Linked DNA regions of Homo sapiens. The protein of the gene in region 2 purifies or fractionates together with the protein of the main gene of each other region. This does not show direct contact. Each region holds a gene or a part of one and is shown on either strand. Other genes may lie near its edges.

Region 1 (3,819 bases), on a different chromosome or scaffold from region 2:
AGGAAGAGGCCATGTGTCATTTACCTCTGAGCTGTCATTGCCTGACACTGTACCTGGCACACAGTAGACAGTGAATAAGCACATAAACAAGCTTTAAAAATTGTTTAAAAAATATCTCAAAGACAAGTTCAAACCTCAGTTTTGTCAGAGTCATCATTTCCCAGTAACTCATCATCTTCTTCTCTTCCTGAGCCTCTTGGGGATCCTGGCTGATGTTTTGGGGTTTCACCAGGATCCTCAATGTTTACTGTGGTGGCATCTGGGTTTGCTGTCAGAGAAGTGGCTGCATTGCCAAATTCTGAAATCAATTAGAGCACACGGGCCTCAGAAACCTTACCCACACTAGAAATGCTATACTTTGAATTTAAAGACAAGCTGTCACAACCTCAGCTTTGCTATAGACCCTACCTGATACAAAGGGCAAAAGCTTTGAAAAACAAAAAATCTCATCAGGAGATCAATCTGATATAGAAAAATGACTATGAAGACAACAGAATTTGGAGTCAGACCTAGATTTTGGTTCTGGCTCAGCTAGCCACTTACTAAATACACAAGCCTGAGTAAGTAACTAAACCCCTCTAAACCTCAGTGTTTTCATCTGTATCATGGGGAGAATAACATTTATTTTAAATAATTTTGGGAGAACAAGGAATATAATCTAAGTCCTAAACTTTACTTCTTTGATTCAAGTCCAAAAAATTTTAATGAAGGTTATTTTTTCCAGTAAGTCTACATAATCACTACAGAAAATATGGGAACAAAAATGAAAGTGGGATCAGCTGCGCACAGTGACTCACGCCTGTAATCCCAGCACTTTGGGAGGCCAAGGCAGGCGGATCACCTGAGGTCAGGAGTTCGACCAGCCTGGCCAACATGGTGAAATGCTGTCTCTACTAAAAATACAAAAATTAGCCGGGTGTAGTGGCACATGCCTTGTAATCCCAGTTATGCTGGAGGCTGAGACAGGAGAATCACTTGAACCCAGGAGGCAAAGGTTGCAGTGAGCCGAGATCACACCACTGCACTCCAGCCTGTGTGACAGAGTGAGACTATGTCTCAAAAAAAAAGGAAAAAAGAAAGTAGAAATCACAGGATAAAAACCACTCTTAGGCCAGGCATGGTGGCTCATGTCTATAATTCCAGCACTTTGGGAGGCCAAGGCAAGAGGACTGCTCGAGCCTCAGAGGTAGAGGCTGCAGTGAGCCGTGATCATACCACTGTACTCCAGCCTGGGCAAGAGAGTAAGACTTTGTCTCAAAAAAAAAAAAAAAAACCCAAAAAACAAAAAAACACTCTTAGTTCTACCACATAAAGGCAAACACTATTAACATTTTAGTATATTTCCTTTTCTTCACATAGTGAGATTCATGCCACTGATGATCATTCATTTATTCAACAAATATTTACTGCATGCCCACAATGTGCCAAGTACTGATCTAGAACATGATACTATAATTAATTTTGCATCCTGCTTTGTCAAGATTATGTAAAATTGGGGATTATACACAAAAATGATTTTTCATATAACAGTCTCTTAAAATGATCACTTATGTGACTGCATAATATTCCATCAATGAAGGTTTTCTTACAAATACAAAAGGAGTGTCTGTGTAGAAAAAGCTTTTTGGGGGGCAGCCTTAAGATGAACACCTATCAGTGTGATCACTAGGTCAACAGGGTGCAAACCATTTTCAAGGATCCTGAACCATGTTACCAAACTGCTTTCCAAAAGAACCTTACCTACTTGTGTCCACCAGCAGTGATTGAGACTTCCTGTCTCCGAATATCCTAACATACTTTATTTCAGCTGCTCTTGAATAAAATTCAGGGCAGCTCTGAACCTTCGAAGGCCAAAGGAAGAGTGCCAGCAGGGCACCATTATAACACTACAAGCAGGGCACCAGTCCTAGCAGTAGGACAGCTGAGTTCACTCTTATTGCCTCTCAACTATATGAGCAGTTTTATGGAGAACACTAAAGTGACTGAAATTAATCAGGTAGCTAATATGCAACAATTACTGAAGCCTCAATTGGCAATGTTTGGGTAGTTTAAGCAACATGAGGTTCTGGAGTGAGATGGTCCTTTGTTCAAGGTAAGACTCTTAATACTCAGTAGCTCCATGACCTTGAGCAAATTACTCCATGGCTCTGAGTCTCTGTTTCTTCAATTATAAAACATAGATAATACCTACCCCACAAAGAGATTTTGAGGATGATGAAATAATAACTATCATTACAGGTACCTCTTATTGATTGTACAGGGCAATGACATTTAAAAAGATAGTCACAACTTTGCTGGAGGGAATTAGACCAAGGAAGATATACTTAACTCTCACAGTTAAAAAGCAGTAGTTAAAATAACTAGAAAAGTATAACTGAAGCTGGGCGTGGTGGCACACACAAACTGGTGGTCCCAGCTACTTGGGACGCTGAGGCAGGAGAATCGCTTGAACCCAGGAGGCAGAGGTTGCAGTGAGCCGAGATCGCACCACTGCACTCCAGCCTGGCAACAGAGTGAGACTCTGTCTCACAAAAAAAGAAAGAAAAGTAAAGTATAACTGGGCTGGATGCAGTGGCTCACGCCTGTAATCCCAGCACTTTGGGAGGCTGAGGCGAGCAGATCACTTGAGGTCAGGAGTTCGAGACCAGGCTGGCCAACATGGTAAAAACCCATCTCTACTAAAAACATAAAAATTAGCTAGGCATGTTGGTGGACACGTGTAATCCCAGCTACTCAGGAGGGTGAGGCACAAGAATCGCTTGAAATGGGAGGTGAAGGATGCAATGATCTGAGATCATGTCACTGCACTCCAGCCTGGGTGACAGAGCGAGACTCGGTCTCAAAAAAAAAAAAAAAAAAAGAGAGAAAAAGAGTATAATTGGATTGTTTGTAATACAAAGGATAAATGCTTGAAGTGATGGACACCCTGTTTACCCTGATGCAATTACTACACATTACATGCCTGTATCAAAATATATGAGTGTACCCTGTAAGTATATATACCTACTACATACCCATGAAAATTAAAAAATTTTTAAAAAGCAGTAGTTTACCAGGGGGAAGGAATGCCAGAAGGAGGAACAGACAGTACCACTTTAGAAGCACAAAGGTCAAAAAGGCCCCAAGGAGGGCGATAACTCCTCTAGTTATTGGGATCAGGAAAGGTTTCTTGGAGAAGATACCATATGAGAAGGATGGCCAGAGGTGCTGGGGATGGCATCTCATGCAAAGGGAAGGGGATGAGCAAGACCCAGAAGATGGAAAGTGTGCCCGTGATGGAGGGACAGTGACGGCATAGTTTGACTGGAGTGTGGGCTGCGTGTACCCCTAACATGACGACTCTTCACACAGTCTGCTCTGTGCTGGTTATTCTTGTCCATCTCAGCTCCTTGAGCATAAAACTGGTATGTGTCTTATTTCTGCCACCAACATTCTCTGCTTTTACATCCTGGCATATCCTAAGCTAGTTTCAGCCTCTGCTCCTTTCCTGAAACAATGCCTTTCACCTGAAGGCTTCTGACCTCTACTTTTTCATCCAATACTACCGTTCCTCCCCGGAGAAGCCTTTCATGACCCACCCCCCGCCACCCCACCCCCAGCATCCTGTGTGCTTTTCTAAAGACCCAAGTCCTTAACACAGTTGATAAAGCCCTGGGTGATTTGTCACCTGCCTCCTCCTAAGCCTCACCTTGTGTCAGCTTTCCCCACCATCCGTGATCTGGAACACAAGTGTTCTCCCAATCCTTTAGGAAAAAAATTAAACTTCCTCACTCCACAGGGGCTTTTGCGAGGGCCACTGTCTTTAAACTTTCTTGCACT
Region 2 (3,819 bases):
GAGCTCAGGGGGTTGAGGCTGCAGTGAGCCATGATTACACCACTGCACTCCAGCCTGGGCAACAGAACAAGATCTTATCCCCCCACAACTCCCCAAAAGAAAAAGAAACACTGGTCAAACCCCACAAACAAAACCAGCTCTGACAGCTGAGACCAAAATTAGATCTAAGAAATCTGTCTGTGGCAGGAAGAGACTTTCCTACTTTGGGTGGAAATTCATGGAAGCCCATGACCTTTGGGTTCGGAGGAATTCTGTGAAAACAGTGCCTTGAAAGCATAACATAACTTTCCACAGGAAGACAGTTTCCAACTCCAGGAGAACTCCAGTGTGATGGGGTGAGCTGAGAACATGCCTCTGCACAGCCCAGGATGCGGAAGTCACACTCGTGATCAGAATAACAGGTGCCACTTCTGAAGCCCACAAGGGGCATCAGGAGCCCTGCCAGGTCCCCTAAACACATTGTGCACCTCATTTAATCATCTTTTTACAACCTTATAATACAGCCAACATCAACCCCATTTTACAGAAAAGAAAAGTGGGTACCCAGAAGGTGTCATGGTCACTGTTCAAGTTCAAGGTCACTGTGAGTCAAGGGTTAACATCGGGCCTGGGCTGATGGGGGCCTGCCTGGGAATGACCCTGGCCTCCCGTAGCACAGAGGCTCCACGAGGACTGTTGTATCTGCCACCCACTGCCCCTGCACTGGAGGGACTGAGTTGGCCAGCAGGCCTTGGGTCTGGGTAAACAGAGTCATAGAAAAGGTTGGTGGGAAACGGAGGCTACAGCTTCTGTGATTCAAGGTAACCCATAGTGCTTTGGCTCTCGCCTGTGGCAGCCAGACACAATTCTTGCAGTAGTAGAGCAAAAGGAGCTATGTGGGTGCAGGGGCTAGATCTCCCAATGAGCTGAAGATGCCCTACCTCTGTCTTCCTATAGAGCTGAGGAAACATAGTTTTATATCAAAGCCTATTTGCACCTGCCAGCTTGGGCCCAGAACTGTACTGTGGGGGTGCAGTCACTTGGCTAGGGAGTGGTAGAATCAAGATCCAGGTCTGTCTGACCTAAAGCCCAGGCTCCTCCTGCATCCCAAGGCAGCTGGAAACCCACAACACTCACTCACAGCTGGTCTGCAACACAGCACGGCTAAAACAGAGTTACCATGTGGCCCAGCAATTCCACTCCTAGGTATGTGCCCAAAAGAACCAAAAATGTATGCCCCAAAAAAAGCACGTACATAAACATTCATAGCAACATTACTCATAACAACACAAAAGCAGAAACAACTCAAATGCCCATCAATGTATGAATGGATAAACAGAATGTGGTATGTCCACACAATGGGTGATTATTTGACCATCAAAAGGAATGAAATAATGGTAAACACCTAAACCGGGATGAACCTGGAAAATATGCTAAGTGAAAGAAGCCAGACAAAAAGCCACATATTGTACAAAACATGTGTCACCTAGACTGGGCTAAGGGATACCCAGATCACATCTGGGTCTGTGAAGGTGTTTCTAGGAAAAAAAAAAAATTAGCATTTGAATTGGTGGACGGAGAAAAGAAGATCCACCCTCATGCAGTGGCTCATGGCTGTAATCCCAGCACTTTGAGAGGCCAAGGTGGGAGGATCACTTGAGCTCTGGAGCTCAAGACCAGCCTGGGCAACATAGTGATCCCGTCTCTACAAAAAATAGAAAAATTAGGCAGGCGTGGTGGTGCATGCCTGTAGTCCCAGCTACTCAGGAGGCTGAGGCAGGAGGATCAATTGAGCCCGGGAGGTGGAGGCTGCAGTGAGTTGAGATCACACCATGGTATTCCAGCCTGGGTGACAGAGCAAGACCCTGTCTCAAAAAAAAAAAAAAAGAAAAGAAAAGAAAAGAAAAAAGAAGGCCCTCCCTTCCCAATCTGGATGGGCATTATCCAAACCTTTGAGGGCCTGAATACGACAACAAAGAAAGGAAGAGGGAATTTCCTCTCCCTGCTTGAGCTAGGATAGCCGTCCTCATCTCCTCTCAGACATCATACCTCCTGGTTTTGGGGCCTTTGGAGTCAGACTAGGCCTTACACGTCGGCCCCTCTGTTCTGGGGCTTTCAGATTCAGAATGAGACACTGTAGGCTCCCCTGGTTCCCAGGCCTTCGGGCTAGGATGGGTTTTATGCCACCGGCGTTCCTGGGCCTGCTGCTTGTGGATGGCAGATCGTGGGACTTCTCAGTCTCCAAAATTGCATGAATGAATTCCTCATAATAAATCTCTTTCTCCATACTTACAGATATCCTATTGGTTTTGTTTCTTTGGAGATCCATGACTAACCCAGATTTCATTTACATGAAATGTCCGGAACAGGCAAATTCATAGGAACAGAAAGTAGACTAGTGGTTCCCAGGGGCTTGGGGAAAGGGAAGATGGGTAGGGACTGTCTGATGGGTACAGGGCTCCCATTTGGCGCAGTGAAAAACTTCTGGAACTACATAGTAGTAATGGATGTACAACCTTGTGAATGTATCAAAATCAAAACTGAATCATACACTTTTAAAGAAGAAATTGGTGGAATGTGAATTATATTTCTTTTTATTTATTTTGTTTTTTGAGACAGGATCTTGCTCTGTCACCCAGGCTAGAGTGCAGTGGTGTGATAATGGCTTACTGCAGCCTTGACCTCCCAGGCTCAAGCAATCTTCCTACCTCAGCCTCCCAAGTACCTGGGACTACAGGTGTGTGCCACCACGTCTGGCTACTTTTTGTATTTTCTGTAGATAACGGGGTTTTGCCATGTTGCTCAGGCTGGTCTCAAACTCCTGGCCTCAAGCAATCCACCTGACTCAGCCTCCCAAAGTGCTGGAACTACAGGCATGAGCCACAGTGCCTGGCCATGAATTATATTATATTAAATTAAACACACACACACACACACATACACTGACACTAAAAGCAAAGGAAACAAAAGGTACAAATCGGCCACTTTAGGAGGCCGAGGCGGGCGGATCACGAGGTCAGGAGATCGAGACCATCCTGGCTAACATGGTGAAACCCCGTCTCTACTAAAAATACAAAAAGTTAGCCGGGCATGGTGGCTGGCACCTGTAGTCCCATCTACTCGGCAGGCTGAGGCAGGAGAATGGCGTGAACCCGGGAAGTGGAGCTTGCAGTGAGCCAAGATCACGCCACTGCACTCCAGCCTGGGGGACAGAGCAAGACTCCGTCTCAAAAAAAAAAAAAAAAAAAAAGTACAAAAAGGCAAACGGAATTACATTAAACCTAAAAACTTTTGTGCATCAGAAGACACAACCAACAGAATGAAAAGGCAGCCTATAGAATAAGAGAAAATATTAATATACAGAATAAAGACCTCAACAACAAAAATCCGATAACTGATTAAAAAAAACGGGCAAGAGACTTGAATAGACATTTCTCCAAAGGTGATATACAAGTGGACACATAGCACATGAAAAAATGCTCAGCAGCATCATTAACCATTAGGGATATGCCAATCTACACCACAACGAAATACCATGGTTATCACACCCATGAGGTGGTTACTATCAAAAACACAGTCAATAACAATGTTGGCAAGGATGCGGAGAAACTGGGACCCTTGTACAGTGTTGATGGGATTGTAAAATGGTGTAACTGATGTGGAAAACAGTATGGTAGTTCCTCAAAAAATTAAAAATAGAACTACCATAGGATCCAGCAATCCCACTTGTGGGTATATGGCCAAAAGAATTGAAAGCAGAATCTCAAAAAGAGATTTGCATACCCACATTCATTGCAGTACTGTTCTCAACAGCAAGAGGTACAAGTGTACCCAAGTGGA

The links.
Region 1: the proteins of TVP23A (region 2) and YIPF1 purify together in Homo sapiens (affinity purification with mass spectrometry; one large-scale study listed by BioGRID and IntAct). This does not show direct contact.

Annotation. Positions count from the first base shown.
Region 1 is NC_000001.11:53,882,979-53,886,797, forward strand, and holds part of YIPF1 (protein YIPF1), read right to left. Parts: intron 299-3,819; coding exon 135-298; intron 1-134.
Region 2 is NC_000016.10:10,808,696-10,812,514, forward strand, and holds part of TVP23A (Golgi apparatus membrane protein TVP23 homolog A), read right to left. Parts: intron 1-3,819.